Linked DNA regions of Homo sapiens: region 2 is linked to region 1. Evidence: fine-mapped QTL for protein levels in blood plasma. A gene starts in region 1. The other region holds a variant in brackets. All regions are shown on one strand. Distances are from middle to middle.

What was found. PIP is the chance, under the fine-mapping model, that this variant and not a neighbour inherited with it causes the effect. The UK Biobank Pharma Proteomics Project read protein levels with antibody pairs (Olink). The fine-mapping took linkage between variants from a reference panel, not from the people measured, so its PIPs are less certain.
Region 2: its variant is fine-mapped to the plasma level of the BIN2 protein (UK Biobank, PIP above 0.99).

Annotation. Positions count from the first base shown.
Region 1 is chr12:51,320,849-51,332,323 of GRCh38, reverse strand. It overlaps BIN2 (bridging integrator 2), which reads left to right and starts at 8,150. Exons shown (of 13, transcript NM_016293.4): 1 at 8,150-8,302. The coding sequence starts at 8,222. CELA1 (chymotrypsin like elastase 1) reads left to right here. Exons shown (of 8, transcript NM_001971.6): 7 at 2,491-2,640; 8 at 3,730-3,882. The coding sequence ends at 3,747. It overlaps LOC105369767 (a long non-coding RNA gene), which reads left to right and starts at 8,316. Exons shown (of 2, transcript XR_944957.3): 1 at 8,316-8,596; 2 at 9,121-9,956. RefSeq lists silencers at 4,925-5,219, 7,915-8,404, 11,385-11,475 and an enhancer at 8,435-8,624.
Region 2 is chr12:51,298,841-51,306,840 of GRCh38, reverse strand. BIN2 (bridging integrator 2) reads left to right here. Exons shown (of 13, transcript NM_016293.4): 3 at 3,700-3,754; 4 at 4,061-4,155; 5 at 4,726-4,821; 6 at 7,127-7,234; 7 at 7,553-7,638. Among named protein-coding and RNA genes, the nearest start is that of BIN2, 21 kb to the left of the region's middle. The variant AC/C (reference allele first, on the strand shown) is at 4,833.

The DNA.
Region 1 (11,475 bases):
CAACCTCTCAAAATATTTTGGTTAGATCAACATTCGGCATTTACTATGATTATATAAAATGCTATTTACAACAAAATCATGTAATATATTCTAGGTTTACTTTTCATTTGCTGCATAACTTTTTTTTTTTTTTTTTAAAGAGACAGGATCTTACTCTGTCACCCAGGCTGGAGTGCAGTAGCACAATCACAGCTCACTGCAGCCTTGAATTTCTGGGCTCAAGAAATCCTCCCACCTCAATCTCCTGAGTAGCCAGGACTACAGGCACATGCCACCACACTCAGCTGATTTTTTAAAATTTTAATAGAGATGGGGGTCTCGGTTTGTACCCCAGGCTGGTCTCAAACTCCTGGCTTTAGCTTAAGCAGTCCTCCTGCCTCAGCCTCCCAAAGTGCTGGGATTACAGTCATAAACCACCAAGGTCAGCCCTTGCTGCACAACTTTTTCAATTTTTTCAATGTCTGTTAAAAATTGTCTTTTTCATTTGCTTAATATAGTCAGTTTTTCATTAATTCAACCCCACACACTCCACTAATTTGTTAAGTGACCTATATCATCTTCTCTTGACCTAGTGGTCTATGTGGATCTATTTGCATTCGTTGTGAGGGATACTTAATGGGTGGGTTTTCCCGGAAACTCCAGACCTTTGATCCAGAAAATGTTGTTTATTTGTTGATTTCCTCCCACTCTATTTTCACTTTTCTCTTTCTAGAATTTCTGTTATTCACATGTTTGCCTCCTAAGCTGGTCCTCTTGTTTTCTCTATATCTTGTTTGTTCTATCTTATGTTCCAACTCTTCCAGTCTCTCATTTCTAAATCTATCAAATCTGTAATTTCCAAAGGCTCTTTTTGCTGTCTGAATGTTGTTTAGTAGTATGCCGTTCTTGTATCATGGATGCATATTAGTCATGTTTTTTGTTTGTGTGTTTGTTTTGAGACGGAGTCTCGCTCTGTCGCCCAGGCTGAAGTGCAGTGGTGCAATCTCAGCTCACTACAACCTCCAGCTCCTGGGTTCAAGCGATTCTCCTGCCTCAGCCTCCTGAGTAACTGGGATTACAGGCATGTACCACCACGCCCGGCTAATTTTTGTATTTTTAATAGAGTTTTAGGGGTTTCACTGTGTTGGCCTAGTCTTGAACTCCTGACCTCAGGTGATCCGCCCGCCTCAGCCTCCCAAAGTGCTGGGATTACAGGTGTGGAGCCACCATGCCCAGCCTATTAGTTATGGTTTTATTGCTTGTTTTCTTCTCCCTGCATAGTCTTGGTTGCCTTCATTTTTTTATTTAGCTCCTTGTTTCTTTGTTTCAATCTTTATTTTTATATTAGATGAATTCCTTTTTTTTTTTTTTTTTTGAGACAGAGTCTCACTCTGTCGCCCAGGCTGGAGCCCAGTGGCGCCATCTTGGCTCACTGCAAGCTCTGCCTCCCGGGTTCACGCCATTCTCCTGCCTCAGCCTCCCGAGTAGCTGGGACTACAGGCGCCCACCACCACGCCCGGCTAATTTTTTGTATTTTTAGTAGAGATGGGGTTTCACCGTGTTAGCCAGGATGGTCTCGATCTCCTGACCTCGTGATCCGCCCGCCTCAGCCTCCCAAAGTGCTGGGATTACAGGCATGAGTCACTGGGCCCGGCTAGAGGCATTCTTTAGATGTTTAGTGATCCTTAACCATCTGCTTTTATTTCAGAGTGGGGGTGGTATTTTTACCCAGAGTGGGTGGGCTGATTGGTAGCTCTGAGCCTTAGATGGGGTTCATCAATAGTGGATTCTCTGTCAGGTGATCTGGCTAGGCCATTTTAGTGGAGGACCTCCAATGTCAGTATCTTTAGGTCTTTCCTCTTGGACTGTTCAGTTTTTCCAGAGAAGTATCTTCCCATTTTATGTGTGGCATTATGGACCTGGCATTCTAGAAGCTGAGTAAGAAGGGAGGCAAGATCATATTCCATAAACCCAGGTTCCCAGTTGAGCATGTGACCTAATACATCACTTTCCTCTTCATTCCAGTTTAGTTTAGCATGTTTTGACTACCAAGTCTAAATACTTGGTCTAATTATACCCATTGGTCTAAATGCTGGGGATAAAGAAATTATTAGAATGCCCTATTTTTGCCACCCCAGGTTCAATTTAAGCCAATAAAAGCGATTGAACTTTAGATATTTAAAGTTCTATGCTAGCATTGTGGAGAGGAAAGATCTTGGTAAGAGTTTTTGTCTCAGGAAGCTCATAGACATGTGTGAGGAGGTACAAACAAATTATGAAACCAAAATACAAGGCAGAACATGAAATAAGTGCAGCAAAAGAGAAGAAGTATTGTGGTTGTTTAGAAAGGAAGAAGAGATTCATTTTGATTGTGGGGACATGAAGGAGGTGGAGATTTGCATTGGAGCTTTAAAACCGTACAGAATTTCACAACCAGAGACGGGGGCGGGGGGAGTGCAAGCAAAAGCCCGAAGATCTGGAGTTTTAGGATTCTGTTTCTCCTCCCTGCAGGGTGACTCTGGGGGCCCCCTCCATTGCTTGGTGAATGGCAAGTATTCTGTCCATGGAGTGACCAGCTTTGTGTCCAGCCGGGGCTGTAATGTCTCCAGGAAGCCTACAGTCTTCACCCAGGTCTCTGCTTACATCTCCTGGATAAATAATGTGAGTCCTCTCAAATGATGGGTTGAAATGGGGTCACCTGGAGACCTACGCACTGGCTGGGTTGGGGAACAAACGTTGGATGGACTGGGCAAGCCGTCATCTTCCTTACCACATTCATGTGTTTACTCCCTTCCCTTCCTTCCACGGTGTACTTTCCTTCAATAAGGCTGCCATCCTGAATTCCCTCCCCTCCACATACCCACAGAGCAGACTTCACTGTATTGTTTATTGCTTAGGGTAAGACAGTGGCAACATCAAATCTGAATCAGGGACATATCAGTGCCTTCCTAAGTCAAAGCCCAGGGAAAAACAGGTTCAGAAAGGCCTGCGTACTCCTAGGCAAGGGAAGGAGGCACCGACTTCCTCTCCCACAACGTCTTTCTAAGGACATTATGATAATTTGCTCTAACTTTTTTTTTTTTTTTTTTTTGAGACAGAGTCTCACTGTGTCACCCAGGCTGGAGTGCAGTGGCTTGATCTCGACTCACTGCAGCCTCTGCCTCCTGGGTTCAAGTGATTCTCCTGCTTCAGCCTCCCAAGTAGTTGGGATTATAGGCATGCACCACCAAACCTGGTAAATTTTTTTTGTATTTTTAGTAGAGATCGGGTTTCACCATGTTGGTCAGGCTGGTCTTGAACTCCTGACCTCAAGTGATCCACCTGCCACCCAAAGTGCTGGGATTACAGGCATGAGCCACAGCGCCCGGCCTGCTCTAATTTTTGACAGGTTTTACCACCTTAAATAATGCTTGAGAGTTAGGTGAGGCTCTGCCTACACTGACCTGGTGGAAAGGCCACACAACACATTTCACTGTGCCCTCCACCCTTCAAACACATTCTGGAGCCTTGTGTATTAATCTTGGCTCACGGCCATTTCAAGGTCTGTCTTTGCCACTGTATTCTGGGTATGTACCTATAACACTGAGCTGTCCTATCACAGTTGAGGCTGACTTCCTGCCTCCCTGTCCCCACACCCTGTCAACTTCCCATAAACCCAGTACAAAACCATACTTAACTGGGAGCCCTGAGGAAACAAGAAAGGAGGTAGGCAGGAGTTACTGACTGTGGACATAACTGTCTTTCCTTCAGGTCATCGCCTCCAACTGAACATTTTCCTGAGTCCAACGACCTTCCCAAAATGGTTCTTAGATCTGCAGTAGGACTTGCGATCAAAAAGTAAAACACATTCTGAAAGACTATTGAGCCATTGATAGAAAAGCAAATAAAACTAGATATACATTATCATACTGTGTCTATTTGTAATTAAGCCCTCCAGAGCAGGGGTCCCTATGCCTGATGATCTGTCACTGTCTCCCATCACCCCCAGACAGGACCGTCTAGTTGCAGGAAAACAAGCTCAGGGATCCCACTGATTCTACATTATGGTGAGTTGTATAATTAGTTCACTATATATTACAGTGTAATAATAATAGAAATGTAGTACACAATAAATGTAATGCCCTTGAATCATCTCGAAACCATCCCCCACCCCGGTTCGTGGAAAATTGTCTTCCACGAAACGGGTCCCTGGTGCCAAAAAGGTTGGGGACCACTGATTTAGAAGAAATGCAGTTATAGGATCCAAGTTGGATTTCACCACATCTGCAGGCTGGGTCTTCCCTTTGCTGCTACCTCTACCAGTCCACAACACAAACCCAGTGGGAGTAGCTTTATGTTATCCATTTTGGGTTACTTTAGGATCTATGTATCCACTAATCTGTCCATCTGCCCTATTCCTGTGGATATTTGCTATATTCGAAGGCACAGAGCTACTTGGGAGGCTGAGGCAGGAGAATCGCTTGAACCCGGGAGGTGGAGGTTGCAATGAGCCAAGATTGCACCGTTGCACTCCATCCTGGGCAACAAGAGCGAAAGACCATCTCAAAAAAAAAAAAAAAAAAAAAAGGTTCCCGAGTGGGCTGGGTACGGTGGCTCACGCCTGTAATCCCAGCACTTTGGGAGGCCGAGGTGGGTGGATAACGAGGTCAGGAATTCGAGACTAGCCTGGCCAAGATGGTGAATCCTCGTGTCTACTAAAAATACAAAAATTAGCTGGGCACAGTGGCAGGCGCCTGGAATCCCAGCTACTCAAGAGGCTGAGGCAGGAAAACTACTTGAACCCAGGAGGTGGAGGTTGCAGTGAGCTGAGATCGTGCCACTGCACTCTAGCCTGGGCAACAAAGCAAGACTCCGTCTCAAAACAAACAAACAAAAAACTTCCTGAGTGACTGAATGTGCCCTGTCTTTCCCAGGTATACTGTGGGTTCATCCTTCTTTTGTTTCCCCCTTTAGTGCCTAAAACGAACGCCCACTCCAAGTTTCTGGGTGATGGCAACTACTAGGATACACCAGAGATAGAAGTATAAGATTAGGAGGCAGGGCAGATACCAGCAGACTAAGAAAGTGACAAATTAGAAAGGAGACTGGAGAAAATCGCTTGGGCCTGGGAGGTGGAGGCCGCAGTGAGCCAAGATTGCGCCACTGCATTCCAGCCTGGGCAATGAAGTGAGATTCTGTCTCAAAAAAAAAAAAAAACAACAATGGAGACTGGAGAGCTAAGAATAGAAAAAAGGAGAGAAGAGAAGATACTAAACAAAGAAACGAAAGGGTTGAGGGGAAGAGGCAGAACAGAAAGGAAGAGGCAACAACAACATAGGGCCTCAAGCTAAGTGTGAATCAGCACTTTAAGGCTGGGACTAAAATTAGGCAACCGGATCCAGGGTTCTATAAACCACAGAGAACTGGGAAACTGATAATTCTGCTGTATCCTGGCCAGGGCTCAGTCTGTTAGAGTGGCCTATGAGAAAGCAAAGGGGGAACTGAAAGGGGAAGGCTAAAAAGGATGAGAAGCAGCTTTTCATGTCAATCACTTAAGACCAGACAAGAGGGACTAGGGTATTAAACATTACAGAAGGAGAAACTGGCTGAGACAGACCCTGGAATTGACAGGCTCAGCAGAGGCCTCTAGAACACTCCATGTGCTATAAGAGGCTGAGTCTGTTCCCATCCCAGTTCCACCACTGAGGAGCTGGGTGGCTGTGGTCAAGTCATCAGCCCTTTCTGTGACTCAATTTCCCTATCTAATTAACTTCTAAGGGTTGTTTCTTCTCTAACACTACATGATTTGGTGACCATCAATTTCAGTTTGCAAGATATTGGCACTAAACAGAGTTTCTTAGGAGACAGTGGCTGGGTTGCATTGCTGAGGATGCCATGTAGTCCTGGCAGGGACACAGGTACTGGCCTCCTTCTGCCAGTGACACACCTGTTAGCATTGCCATCTACTCTCAGTGTTCCCGCAGTACTGCTATTCTCCATGCTTCTCCCCACTTCTCCCCATCCAATATCAAGTCCTTCTATTTTCATCACCCTGCCTCTTCCAGGGCATCACCAAAGCTAACATCCAGAATAAACCCTAATCGCCTGGCAGGGCAAGGTGGTTCACACCTGTAATCCCAGCCCTTTGGGAGGCTGAGGCGGGTGGATTGCTTGAGCTCAAGAGTTCCAGATCAGCCTGGGTAGCCAGGAGTGGTGGCATGCACGCACCTTAGTCCCAGCTACTCAGGAGGCTGAGGTGAGACCATCACTTGGGCCTGGGAGGTAGAGGCTGCAGTGAGCCCTGATGGCACTGCTGCACTCCAGCCTGGCAACAAAGCAAGACCCTGTCTCCAAACAAACAAACAAACAAACAAACCCTAATCACCTATTCCCAGAAAATTTTGTATCCATCTCTACAAATAAATTAAGCACATTACATTAGAATCACCTGATTACCCACCTATCTCCACTTCCAGACTTTAAGCATCTTTATTTATGTACTTATTTATTAATACTTATTCTTTATTGGTTGAGAAAGGGCCTCACGCTTTGCCCAGGCTGGAATGCAGTGGCACCATCAGGGCTCACTGCAGCCTCCACCTCCCTTGGCTCGGGTGATCCTCCCACCTCAGCCTCCCTGATAGCTGGGACTACAGGTGTGTGCCACCACGCCCAATTAATTTTTGTATTTTTAGCAGAGAGAAGGTCTTGCTATGTTGCGCAGGCTAGTCTCAAACTCCTGGGCTCAAGCAATCTGCCTGCCTCAGCCTCCTAAAGTGTTGGGATTACAGGTGTGAGCCGTGGTGCCCGGCCAGACTTCATTAAGCATCTTAAGGTCAGGGACTGCATTTTATTCATCCTTGTTTCAGAACACCCAGCAATGCCTGGTACACAGTTGACCTTGAGTGCAGTAATGATTGTTTTGGAGAAAGAAGAGGAACACAGTAGCATACAAGGGCCTCTAATTTTGTGTCAGGCCCTATCTTCCCCCTCCACTCCTTAGGAAGTGTTATTTTGACCTTCTTCCCTGCCTTGAGGAAATTTTAACCTGCACTGTAAAATCTGAGTACGTGGTTCCTCCACACCTAGTGTCCTAATCTCAAGCTATCCCCTCAAACAGGTCAGGGAGGAATTTTTTGGAGAACTTCTCCCTAAAGAAACAATAGTTGTCATCTCAACAGCCGCACCCCAATTTGCACAATCTGTGTCTGTGTTCACATTCTGCCTCCATCCAGTACACTGTACTCCAACTAGAAAAACTTGCTCCTCATGCTCAGCACGGGCGTCCATACTATCCTCCTCAGCCTTTTTTCAATGTGATCATTCTCTTGCCTAAGAACCAGCCCCCTACCCTGTTTCTATCTCCAGCTTAGTTGTTCCTCATTTATTTATTTATTTATTTATTTATTTATTTATTTATTTGAGACGAACTGTCGCTCTGTCGCCCAGGCTGGAATGCAGTGGCGCGATTTCGGCTCACTGCAACCTCTGCCTCCCGGGTTCAAACAATTCTCCTGCGTCATCCTCTCGAGTAGCTGGGACTGCAGGCGTGCGCCACCACACCCAGCTAATTTTTGTATTTTTAGTAGCGACGCGGTTTCACCGTATTGGTCAGGCTGATCTCCTAACCTCAGGCGATCCACCCGCCTCGGCCTCCCAAAGTGCTAGGATTACAGGCGTGAGCCACCGCGCCCGGCCTGTTTCTCTCTTTCAAGCCCGGCTCGGGTGTCCTGCCTGCTTTCTGCACTCTATCCCTACCAGTTCCAGGCTTAGAGCCTACCTGGAGCAAGAAACGCAGTGTACATGGCGGCTTCGCATGCATACTCAGAGAACCTAAACGTGTTTTCGATATGGTAGGTCCTCTCGCTGAGTGGAACCCACATCATTTTCTACCCTGCGGTGGCAGTTGCTTTGCAGTGCTCAGCGTGATGGGAACTGGCTTTCCGGAGCGAGTGAGTGTGGGCCCACCACTGAGGACCTGGTTCAGTGAGGCCGAGGTTTCGGGCAGGGGTTGGAGCTCGGAAGCTGGCCTCGAGCGAGCGCTGCCTGAGGGTAGGCCCCGGGCCCGCCCCTCCGAGCCGGCCTGCTCCAGCTGACAGTGGTGGGCTGAGGGGCGGGCCTCAGGGCTGGCCAGGGGCGGCCTGAGGTGGCTCAGGGCTGGGGCCGGATGCGAGGCATGCCGGGAGCCCGCACTTCCTCCTCGGGGGCCTCAGAAAACCACAGGGCGCGGGGCCAGGGCGGCGGCCCCCAGGGAGTTGGCAGGATGGCAGAGGGCAAGGCAGGCGGCGCGGCCGGCCTCTTCGCCAAGCAGGTGCAGAAGAAGTTTAGCAGGGCCCAGGAGAAGGTAGGTGGCCGGGCCTCGCTGTCTGTCTGGCCCACAGGGAGCCGAGGCCGAGGCCGAGCCCGGCCGGGCAGGAGGGGCGGGCAGGGTGCTCAGGGGCCCCGAAGGGTCTGGGCTGACGAGAAGGGTCTCCCGCTCTCCCAGGGAAACGGGAGCGAGGAGTGGGCTTCCATGAAAACTGGCAGATTGGAGAGAGGTCGGAGACCGCCACCCGATCTTGGGCAAGGATAAGGGAAGCTGGGGAGACAACAGTCTCTGGGCAGAACCTTCGACAACCCTCAGGCTGACCCAGAAAAGGTGAAAGAAAGGAAGTGATGGTGGTGGCCACCTTTGTATCAAATTTTGTGCTAGCAATCCAAAATTGGTATTTTACAGATGATGAAATTGGAGGGTAATTTTCCATAGAGGGCAATTTCCCCAAAAACAGCGATGCAGCGGATGCCAGCAGGCACCCCCCACCAAAGGCTTAGAATAATCCTGCATAGTTCTCCCCCTACCTGACCCTGCCTGGCCTCTGGGTGGTGTTTCAGCTGACGTAAGCAGGAGCCCAAATCTGCTTCTTCTACCCTCCCTTTGGCGTTGGGGAGTACACCTCCCAGGGTGATGAACCACATCTGTGTTCAGAGTGTGTCCTTGGTTAGTGTCAGGTAGCCCTGCTCCAGCACTGGCACTTAGGTGGGCTGCCCATCTATTACTTGCTTGGCAATCTAAATTGTGGGGACATTCTCTACACATTTTGATGGCATTTTTGTTTCTACCTGTACAGAATATTTTCTTTGCTTCTAACCTGAGCCTCTGCTCTCCACCTACCAACCCTCTAGTAGACAAGGCGGTTTGGGAAGACATGTCAGCCAGAAGAAAGAGCGAGGGAAGAAAGACAAGAAGGACCTGAGATAGAGTTTCGGTTTTCCTTTTTTTCTCTCTCTCTTTATTAAGCCCAACCTGCCTTCTACAACGGAGAAGTTTTGGTTTTCTAAGAGCTGATGGACTTAGAAGCATTTGGATGAACAGCTCTGCTTACCAACTGAAATATCCCTATTATCTTCTAAAAGTGGAGCACTGCTTTGAGCCCTGGGAAGGCTTAAAGGCAACCAGCTCTCCCGAGTTGATTTATCAGCAGAAAACTGATGGAATGTAGATGTAGCTCCTGACTTTAAGAGACCACAATGGAAGGGAGGTTATTTTCTATCATTTGAGGTCATGTGAAAGAGAGGAGGAAAAGGGAAAGAGTTCGTGTAGCCAGACTTCGTTACTTCACTTACCCTAACTTCACCTTGATCCTAGTTTCAGCCTCTCTGAAGACTTACAAATCTGGTAGACCCGAGAGCAGGGCCTATGGGAAGGTCTAGCTCGAAACAGTGTGGGCGAGCAGGAGGTACTGGAGAGAAGGCCACACTGTGGTTGAAAAAAAAAAAAACCCTAAAAGACAAAACACTCATGAATGATAGTAATTTTAAAAAGACATACCAGCCAGGCACAGTGGCTCACTCCTGTAATCCCAGCACTTTGGGAGGCCAAGGTGGGAGGACTGCTTGAGCCCAGGAGATCAAGACTGCAGTGAGCAGTGATCACACCACACCACACTCAAGCAGAGGGAGACTCTGTCTCAAAAAATAAAAATAAATACATAAAAATAAAAGACATACAATTGATTGTATTTCACTCTTGCATCTTCTGTCTTCATCTAGCCTCTCGTCAACACTAAAACCTTGCTTTGGGCTTTCACTCCTTTGTAAGCATAGACTCCAAACCTTGGCTAAATAATGTCCTGCTCTGGGCTTCAGATCTTGCACCTGTAAAATGAGAGGGTTGATGTTCTTGATGAAACTCAATATGGTAAGAACACTAAATTGAAAAGCTGTCACATTAGACTCAGAGTCAAATACTTCCCAAAGACAGAACCAGTCTCTCAGGTTCTTCTGGCCTGAACCCTGAGGAAGTAGAGAAAGAGGAGCAAACTCAAATCTGCCATGAGGAATTCCCAGCTGATGAAGAAAACAAGATATTCTGAACCTAGACTAGACAAAAGGGTAGGCAAAGGTTGAACTTCGATAAGGTGGGAATGGCCTGGGATGCCGGAAGGGAGCTCAGCTCCGTCAGCCTGAAGCCAGTCCTTGAGTCTTGGGAAGTTATTGAGACCAAGATAAAGAGGGAGAAATTTGCACTAAAATGAAAGAATTCCTTGCAACACTTTTTGCTTTTTCTGCAAGCAGTTGGATGTAATCTTCTGAGTAATAAGTAATAGCTAATGTGTCAAATAGTGAAATGTGTCAAATATCAAGCGCCTATTATGGACCAGAGACAGGGATATAAGAAAGTGATTATCAGCGGGGTGCAGTGGCTCACGCCTGTAATCCCAGCACTTTGGGAGGCCCAGGCAGGTGGATCTCCTGAGGTCGGGAGTTCGAGACCAGCCTGACCAACATGGAGAAACCCCGTCTCTACTAAAAATACAAAATCAGCCGGGTGTGGTGGCGCATGCCTGTAATCCCAGCTACTCAGGAGGCTGAGGCAGGAGAATCGCTTGAACCTGGGAGGCGGAGGTTGCCGTGAGCCGAGATCGCGCCATTGCACTCCAACTTGTGCAACAAGAGCAAAACTCTGTCTCAAAAAAAAAAAAGACAAAGTGATTCTCTCTCCCTTTATGGAGCCAACATTCTACCGATGTCATCTCCCTTCATCTATTCAACACTTTAAGCAGGTTATTAGCATCTCTGTTTTAGAAATAAGGAAACAAGGCTCAAAAGAGATTGGTAGGTAGCAGAAATATTACTGAAACCCAGGTGTCCTGCCTCTGAATCCTAACCTCACTCAGGCTGCTGCTTTACAACGTTCCTGATAAGCCACTCTCACATCTGTGCCTCCCCCACTTCCTGCTGATCCTCTCTCAGGAACAGAGCTCAGAAGTAGAAACACTTTTTGTTCAGGCATCCTCTGAAAAGCTGGGAGTGGAGGTCTGGTGACCATTAAACACAATAGGGATGAAACATTCTTGGTCTGTTTTCCATTTCCCGCCCAAACTCAACATGGGACTGAATTTAAGCTGGCTTTAGAGTGTGTGTGTGTGTGTTTGTGTGTGTGTGTGTGTTTTTAGTATGATACATCTTCTCATTTCCAACTATAGTACTGCTTTCACCATCTGTTTGTGATTTCTCTGTGGCAAACCTCTCAGATCC
Region 2 (8,000 bases), 24 kb after region 1:
AATGAAAAAGCAAGGAGGAAGTGAGATATCCTTTCTGGTAGATGCTGAGTGTTTCTGAATTTTGTTAACTGACTGAATCTGTCTCCAATATGCTATTGAAAGTGCTTTCTCATGGTCACCAGTGACCCATTACCAAATCCAGTGAATTTTACCAATTCTTCCTGCATTCTAACGTCTCTGTAGCATCTGACACTTCCTTGATTGGTTTTGATTTTTAGACAGAGTCTGCTGTGTCGCCCAGGCTGCAGTGCAATGGCGCAATTGCAGCTCACTGCAGCCTCCACCTTCCGGGTGCAAGTGATTCTCCTGCCTCAGCCTCCCGAGTAGTTGGGATTACTGGCACCCACCACCACACCTGGCTAATTTTTGTATCTTTAGTGGAGACGGACTTTCACCATGTTGGCCAGGCTGGTCTTGAACTCCTGACCTCAAGTGATCTGCCTACCTCAACCTCCCAAAATGCTAGGATTACAGATTTGAGCTACCTCGCCTGGCCTACTTCCTTGATTGTTTATATGATGTTCTCTTAATCCTCATTTGCTGTAACACAGCACACAATCACAGTTCTGTACCTGTCTGACAGTGCCTTTCACTCCTTTAAGACTGTGTCCTCATGTCCCTTCAAACTGACATTCAGCCCCTTGAGAGGGACTTTTGATCTGAAGTTTGATCAAAAGTTTGGACTAGCTTAGAAGTGAGCTCTGAGACCCAGCACAGTGGCTCACACCTGTAATCCCAGCACTTTGGGAGGCCGAGGTGGGCAGATCACGAGGCCAGGAGATCGAGACCATCCTGGCTAACACAGTGAAACCCTGTCTCTACTAAAAATACAAAAAATTAGCCAGGCGTGGTGGCACACACCTGTAGTCCTAGCTATGCAGGAGGCTGAGGCAGGAGAATTGTCGCTTGAACCCAGGAGGCGGAGGTTGCAGTGAGCCAAGATCACGCCACTGCACTCCAGCCTGGGCGACAGAGCGAGACTCCATCTCAAAAAAAAAAAAAAAAAAAAAAAAAGAAAGAAAACAGTGAGCTCTGGAGGCAAAAAAAATGGATGAAATAACTAGTCCAGTTTTCTTTGATTTGACCAAGTAGACCTAAATTTTCTGCTGCTAAAATTAAGTAAATAGTGACCTTTCCCCAAAGATTTCCACAGGAAAAATTTTGTCACTAGATAGAATTTTCTGAATTTTCCTTTTTTTCTCATTTTTTTTTTTTTTGAGATGGAGTTTCATTCTGTTGCCCAGGGTGGAGTACAGTGGTGCGATCTCGGCTCACTGCAACCTCTGCCTCCTGGGTTCAAGTGATTCTCCTGCCTCAGCCTCCTGAGTAGCTGAGATTACAGGTGCGTGCCACCATGCCTGGCTAATTTTTGTATTTTTAGTAGGGACAGGGTTTCACCACATTGGTCAGGCTGGTCTAGAGCTCCTGACCTCGTGATCCTCCTGCCTTGGCATCCCAAACTGCTAGGATTACAGGCGTGAGCCACTGCGCCCAGCCTTTCCCATAATTTTTTATTTTTATTTATTTATTTATTTTTGAGATGGAGTTTTGCTCTCGGCTCACTGCCACCTCTGCCTCCTGGGTTCAAGCGATTCTCCTGCCTAAGCCTGCCAAGCAGCTGGGATTACAGGTGCCTGCCGCCACACCCTGCTAATTTTTTATATTTAGTAGAGATGGGGTTTCACCATGTTGGTCAGGCTGGTCTCAAACTCCTGACCTCGGGTGATCCACCTGCCTTGGCCTCCCAAAGTGCTGGGATTACAGGCGTGAGCCACCGTGCCTGGCCCCATACTTTTTTATACTTTTGTTTTTTGTTTTGTTTTGAGACGGAGTCTGGCTCTGTCGCCCAGCCTGGAGTACGGTGGCGTGATCTCAGCTCACTGCAAGTTCTGCCTCCTGGGTTCATGCCCATTCTCCTGCCTCAGCCTCCTGAGTAGCTGGGACTACAGGTGCCCGCCACCACACCCAGCTAATTTTTTTGTATTTTTAGTAGAGATGGGCTTTCACCGTGTTAGCCAGGATGGCCTTGATCTCCTGACCTCGTGATCCGCCCGCCTCGGCCTCCCTAAGTGCTGGGATTACAGGCGTGAGCCACTGCGCCTGGCCAGTTTTTTACACTTTTGGTATCATCAATAGTCTATCAAGTAATGAATACAGCAATTAACAAATGAACAAATTCACAACAAGTATTTTATGGTGTACTGAATAATGCAGCTTGGCTTTCAAGTACAACATCCCCTGAACTGGTCTGTTCTGATCTGTAGGCTGGCTCCCTAGAGTTCCCTTGAAGTGGGCTGCACCTCTCAGTCCATCCCTACAGTCCACAGTCCTGAAGTCAGGTTCCAGAACGTCAGATGTCTGGCCTTAAATTCCCAACCAACTCTTCAAAATGAGTTTACACATAGGAAGGAGACCAAAATGGGAAGAGGGCCTAAACACCATAAGGAACAATTGAGGAAACCTGTGAGAAAGGCTTGGTCAAGGGCACATGCAAGTTGTCTTCAAGCATGTGTGGAAGAGAAATTAGATCTACTCTATGAGTACAGAAGGCCAACCCAAGACTAATAGGAAAAAGTTTGTTTGTTTGTTTTGAGATGGAGTCTTGCTCTGTCACCGAGGCTGGAGTACAGTGGCGTGATCCGATCTCAGCTCACTGCAGTCTTCGCCTCCCAGGTTCAAGCGATCCTTCTACCTCAGCCTCCTGCGTAGCTGGGACTACAGGTGTGCGCCACCACACCCAGCTAACATTTGTATTTTTACTAAAGACAGGGTTTCACCATTTTGACCAGGCTGGTCTCGAACTCCTGTCCTCAAGTGATCCGCCAGCCTTGGCCTCCCGAAGTGCTGGGATTATAAGTGTGAACTGCCACGCCCAGCCAGAAAAAGTTTTAACAGAGCTAGTTTAAAATCAAGTGATACTGTCTCAGGCAAGACATTAGTTTCCAGTTTCTGGAAGTATTGGGAAGCAGAGGCTAAATGAACATTTGTCAGAGTTATAACAAAAGCAGTTCATCTACCAGATTGAGATTTGAACTTCCAAGTCTAAATAATACCTTCCTCTCCTTTTTTAGAGGGAGGAGGAGCCCTTGTCTGAACTTGGGGTTCCTAGCCTAAAAAAATGAGATTTCAGACACAGGAGCAAAGATGGAAGCAGGGATAGATAGAGCTATAGATGAAGACATTCGGGGTGGAACAGGAGAAGCAATGATGAGGCTCCTTGGAGTAGTATAAAAGGTGACTGATGGAAGGGAAGGGTAAAGTGAGACAAGTCAGAGAAGGATATTGGGGAGGAGAGGAATGTCTGTGTGAGGGTTCAGAGAAAGAAGAAGGCCTGGTGTCTGCAGAAAATGGTAGCACTTTACCCAGAGAGGAGGGTGCAAGCCAGAGAATTGCATAGATAGTGTTACATGGAGAACACTTACCTTTCAACAGTGGAACTTGGGTATAGGCTCTTGTTCACTGAAAGGAAGACGCCAGTGTAATGGGAGCTTTAGCAAGCACCCATCTTAAAAACTAACACAAAAGAGACCACCTACAACAGGTTGGTAAAGAAAGTAAAGGCTGACTTATAACAATTGTGAATATTTAGAGAAATTCCAGGTGTGATTTCTGCTCTTAACCTACTTTTTGACTTTGACCTCTGGAGCATCTTTTGAAATATTAATCTCTTTAGTCACCAAATGTACTTTTCTCTTTCAGGCAGAAGGCCACAAGCTGTACAAGGACCTGAAGAACTTCCTTAGTGCAGTCAAAGGTGGGCAATGCAGCATGGGAGAATCCAGAGGGCATTTATACAGCTACTAGGAGGTTTGGGGTGGAAAACAATAGCCATACCCCCAGGTTTTTGTCATTTTATCATTTGACTACTCTTGACTCCTGGAATTTTGTGGGCTGAGGAAGAGTGACTTTTCCTTTCAGCCCCATCCAGCTTTCCTCACTTATATAACCTAAACCTTCTGAGTTTGTCCTTCTGAATTGGAACCACTGATTTGTCACCCATGTGATTACACCAACTACTGTTGGGGAAACATGATGGTGGGACTGAATTCTCTCCTTTCAGTGATGCATGAAAGTTCAAAAAGAGTGTCAGAAACCCTGCAGGAGATCTACAGCAGCGAGTGGGACGGTCATGAGGAGCTGAAGGCCATCGTATGGGTAAGAGTGGCTTGAGTTTTACAACTTATTGGCACTTACTCCTGTTTGCATCTCAACCTCAGCTTAGCTTCTCTATCCAAGAAAATAGGAAAACAAAGGAGCCAGTTCACACTGTGCATTTGTGTAGCCTCAGTCACTGGGTGGTAGGAAGAAGCTACAACTGTTAAGGTAAAAACAAGTTTTCCCTAATCTGTGGATCCCTCTAATTTTGACCCTCTTCTCCTCTTTAAAACATTATGGGAAGTTTTACCTCCTAAAGATTGGTTGTTTTTTAAAACAAACTTCATGCAGTTATACACTCTTAAACTTTCCCATCTAAGCTCTGGAGTCCAAGGCTTTGACCTTGTGCCCTGTTCTTAATCTCTGAATGTATGTTCAGACTCCCATAGAGCAGTTCCTTGGGGTAGGGGCTGTCTCTTTTCTTCCTCTGACTAGTCCCCAGAATCCAACATGGTATTCTAAATACGGTGCTACAAAAAAGGTTTTTGCAGGGAGAATTTGGGTATTTCCCTGGTAGGCAGTTGTTGTTGGGAAGTGGAGCCTTCACCAGCCTCTGACTCTATCCTACAGAATAATGATCTCCTTTGGGAAGACTACGAGGAGAAACTGGCTGACCAGGCTGTAAGGACCATGGAAATCTATGTTGCCCAGTTCAGTGAAATTAAGGTACTCAATGT[AC/C]AGAATCAAGGCTGGGTTGTGGATGACCCATCCAGGTTAGAGAACATATTGGGTTAAGCATTATAAGTAGAATTAGAACTCACGATTAAGAATGAAGTTTGGGTAAGTTAGGAGAAAGATTAAGGTTGAGGGTTAGACAAGAGGTTAGGATAGAAGGTTGGAAGTAGTGTGAAGTTTATGTTTAAACTTAGATTTCAAGGCTGGGTGCAGTGGCTCACACCTGTAATCCCAGTACTTTGGGAGGCCGATGCAAGAGAATCACTTGAGCCCAGGAGTTCGGGACCAGCCTGGGCAACATGGCAAAATCCCATCTCTACAAAAAATACAAAAAAAAATAGTCATGTGGTGGTGCGTGTCTGTAGTCCCAGCCACCCTAGGAGACTGAGGTGAAGGATCACTTCAGCTGGGGAGGGAGAGGTTGCAGTGAGCCAAGATCATGCCACTGTGCGCCAGCCTGGGTGACAGAGGCTGGTGTCTCAAAAAAAGTAAATAAATAAAATAAACTTAGATTTCAGTAAGCTATATTTGGGCTGATTTCGAATTAGATCCAAGTTAGAGGCATCCCTTTTAGCTGTGAGAAACAGCTGATGGCACTAAAGATGTTTATTGTATAGAAGAGGAAACATGGAGCAATCAAATAGTTATCTTCAAATATTTGAAAGTCTGTTAGGTAAAATAGGAATTCAACCTATTCTAAACTGTTCTGCTTTCTGTTCCAGAAAGCAGAATTAGAATTCATCTATTCATTCAGCTAGTTTTTTTTTGTTTTTGTTTTTGTTTTCTTTTTTTTGAGATGGAGTCTTGCTCTGTTGCCCAGGGTGGAGTGCAATGGCGCAGTCTTGGCTCACTGCAACCCCCGCCTCCCGGGTTCTAGGGATTCTCCCGCCTCAGCCTCCCGAGTAGCTGGGATTACAGGCATGCGTCACCAAGCCCAGCTAATTTTTGTATTTTTAGTGGAGACAGGGTTTCTCTGTGTTGTCCAGGCTGGTCTCAAACTCCTGACATCAGGTGATCCGCCCACGGCCTCCCAAAGTGCTGGGATTGCAGGCGTGAGCCACTGCACCCGGCTCTAGTATTTATTAAACACCTACTCTGTCAAGCACCGTGCTGATTCAGAGGAAGAAGTTAGAAGGAGGCTGACTTAAGTTCCTAATAGTTAAAGCTTTCCAAAAATGAAATGAAATAGACTCAAAGATAGTGAGTTGTCTGTTCTTTGTGCAAACAGAAGTCAAACTACTTCTTATCTTGGATGTTATAGAGAAGCCTCATGGTATTGTATGGGAAATTGGACCAGATAATTGCTAAGATCTTTTCAAATTCTGTGACTGAGAGAATGAAACGGTTCAAAGACATAGTTTGCTTCTCACTGGTATAATTTATAGTTTGGATAAGGCTGAGTAGACTTTCTCTCAGTGGTCATAGTAATTTATAGCTTTTATTGTGTTTTAGAGCTTTCAAAGCACTTTGTATTCAGCATTCACTCTTTCAAATAACAGTTGTATAAGGGGAGATGGGGCTACTGAGGCTCCAAAAGAGATGTGCCTTGCCACTGGCCACAGGCTATGAATGGCAGATTTGGGACTAATTCCCAAAAATCCAGACTTTCACTTTCATGTGATTCTCAAGGCCATTTCTCCTGGAGGCTGAACCAGTTTATAATGGGTTCATAGGAAATATTAAAATTTAATACAGCGGGAGGTGGAGGTGGAAATATATATATGTATTTAATTATATATCTATTACATATATATAATTAATACAGATTTCCACATGCTCTGTAGGACTCTATCTCCCTCTGAGACTCCCCCATTCTTCCCAGATACTGAGGGAGACCCCATGGGCGCAAAACCCTATTAGAAAGTGAAATTTGGGCCAGGTGCGGTTGCTCCTGCCTGTAATCCCAGCACTTTGGGAGGCCGAGGTGGGCATATCACATGAGCCCAGGAGTTCGAGACCAGCCTGGCTAAGATGGCAAAACCCCATCTCTACTAAAAATGCAAAAATTAGCCGGGCTTGGTGCACATGCCTATAATTCCAGCTACCTGGGAGGCCGAAGCACAAAAATTGCTTGAATCTGGGAGGCAGAGGTTACAGTGAGCTGAGATCGCACAACTGCACTCCAGCCTGGGCAACAGAGCAAGACCCTGTCTCAAAAAAAACAAAAGCAAAAAACAACGAAAGTGAAATTTGATAGTAGGATGCAAGAATCTTGCTCTCTGTTTGGTATTCTGTTACCTACATCCTGGCCACTAAAAAGTGAGTATCCACACCCTTTCTCATTACCCTGGGTCAGGAGAGAATTGCCAAGCGGGGTCGGAAACTCGTGGACTATGACAGTGCCCGACACCACCTGGAGGCAGTGCAGAATGCCAAGAAGAAAGATGAGGCCAAGACTGCCAAGGTAAAACAAAAACAACAACAAAAACTGGTAAACCCTTCCTGTTCTCCTTCTCCCCATGGTGGTAGCAGGTGGCTGGGCCAACATGGGTATAGGAAATTATAAATTCAGCATCCAGTGTCCTAAAGGAAATCTGTTTCTTCTGACACTGATGCTGTAAGGATAGTCAGAGTCTTGAGGCTGGGGAGGGCATGGTCAGGGGAAGAAGAGGGATGGCTCCTAAAAAGCCTAGTGCCTAAAAAAATGCAGAGGATGAAGGAGGCATGCTGTAGTACTGGGTTCAGAATTGAGGGAGATTGTCTTGTCTCTTTTACCACCTAGGCAGAGGAAGAGTTCAACAAAGCCCAGACTGTGTTTGAAGATCTGAACCAAGAACTACTAGAGGAGCTGCCTATTCTTTATAATAGGTAATGACTGAAATTCAGAAAAGGTGCCTTTGCTTCACACAAGGCACCTTGTGTGCCTTGACAGTAAGTAGATAAAAGTGTTTTAGATTTAAATTCCCACACTGCCCCGCCCCCTTTTTTTTTTTTTCGAGACAGGGTCTCACTCTGTCACCCAGGCTAGAGTGCAGTAGCACTCAATCTCAGCTCACTGCAACCTCCACCTCCCTAGTTCAAGTGATTGTTGTGCTTCAGCCACCCGAGTACCTGGGATTACAGGCATGTGCCACCATGCCTGGCTAATTTTTTTTTGTATTTTTAGTAGAGATGGGGTTTCACCATGTTGCCCAGGCTGGTCTCGAACTCCTGGCTTCAAGTGATCCCCC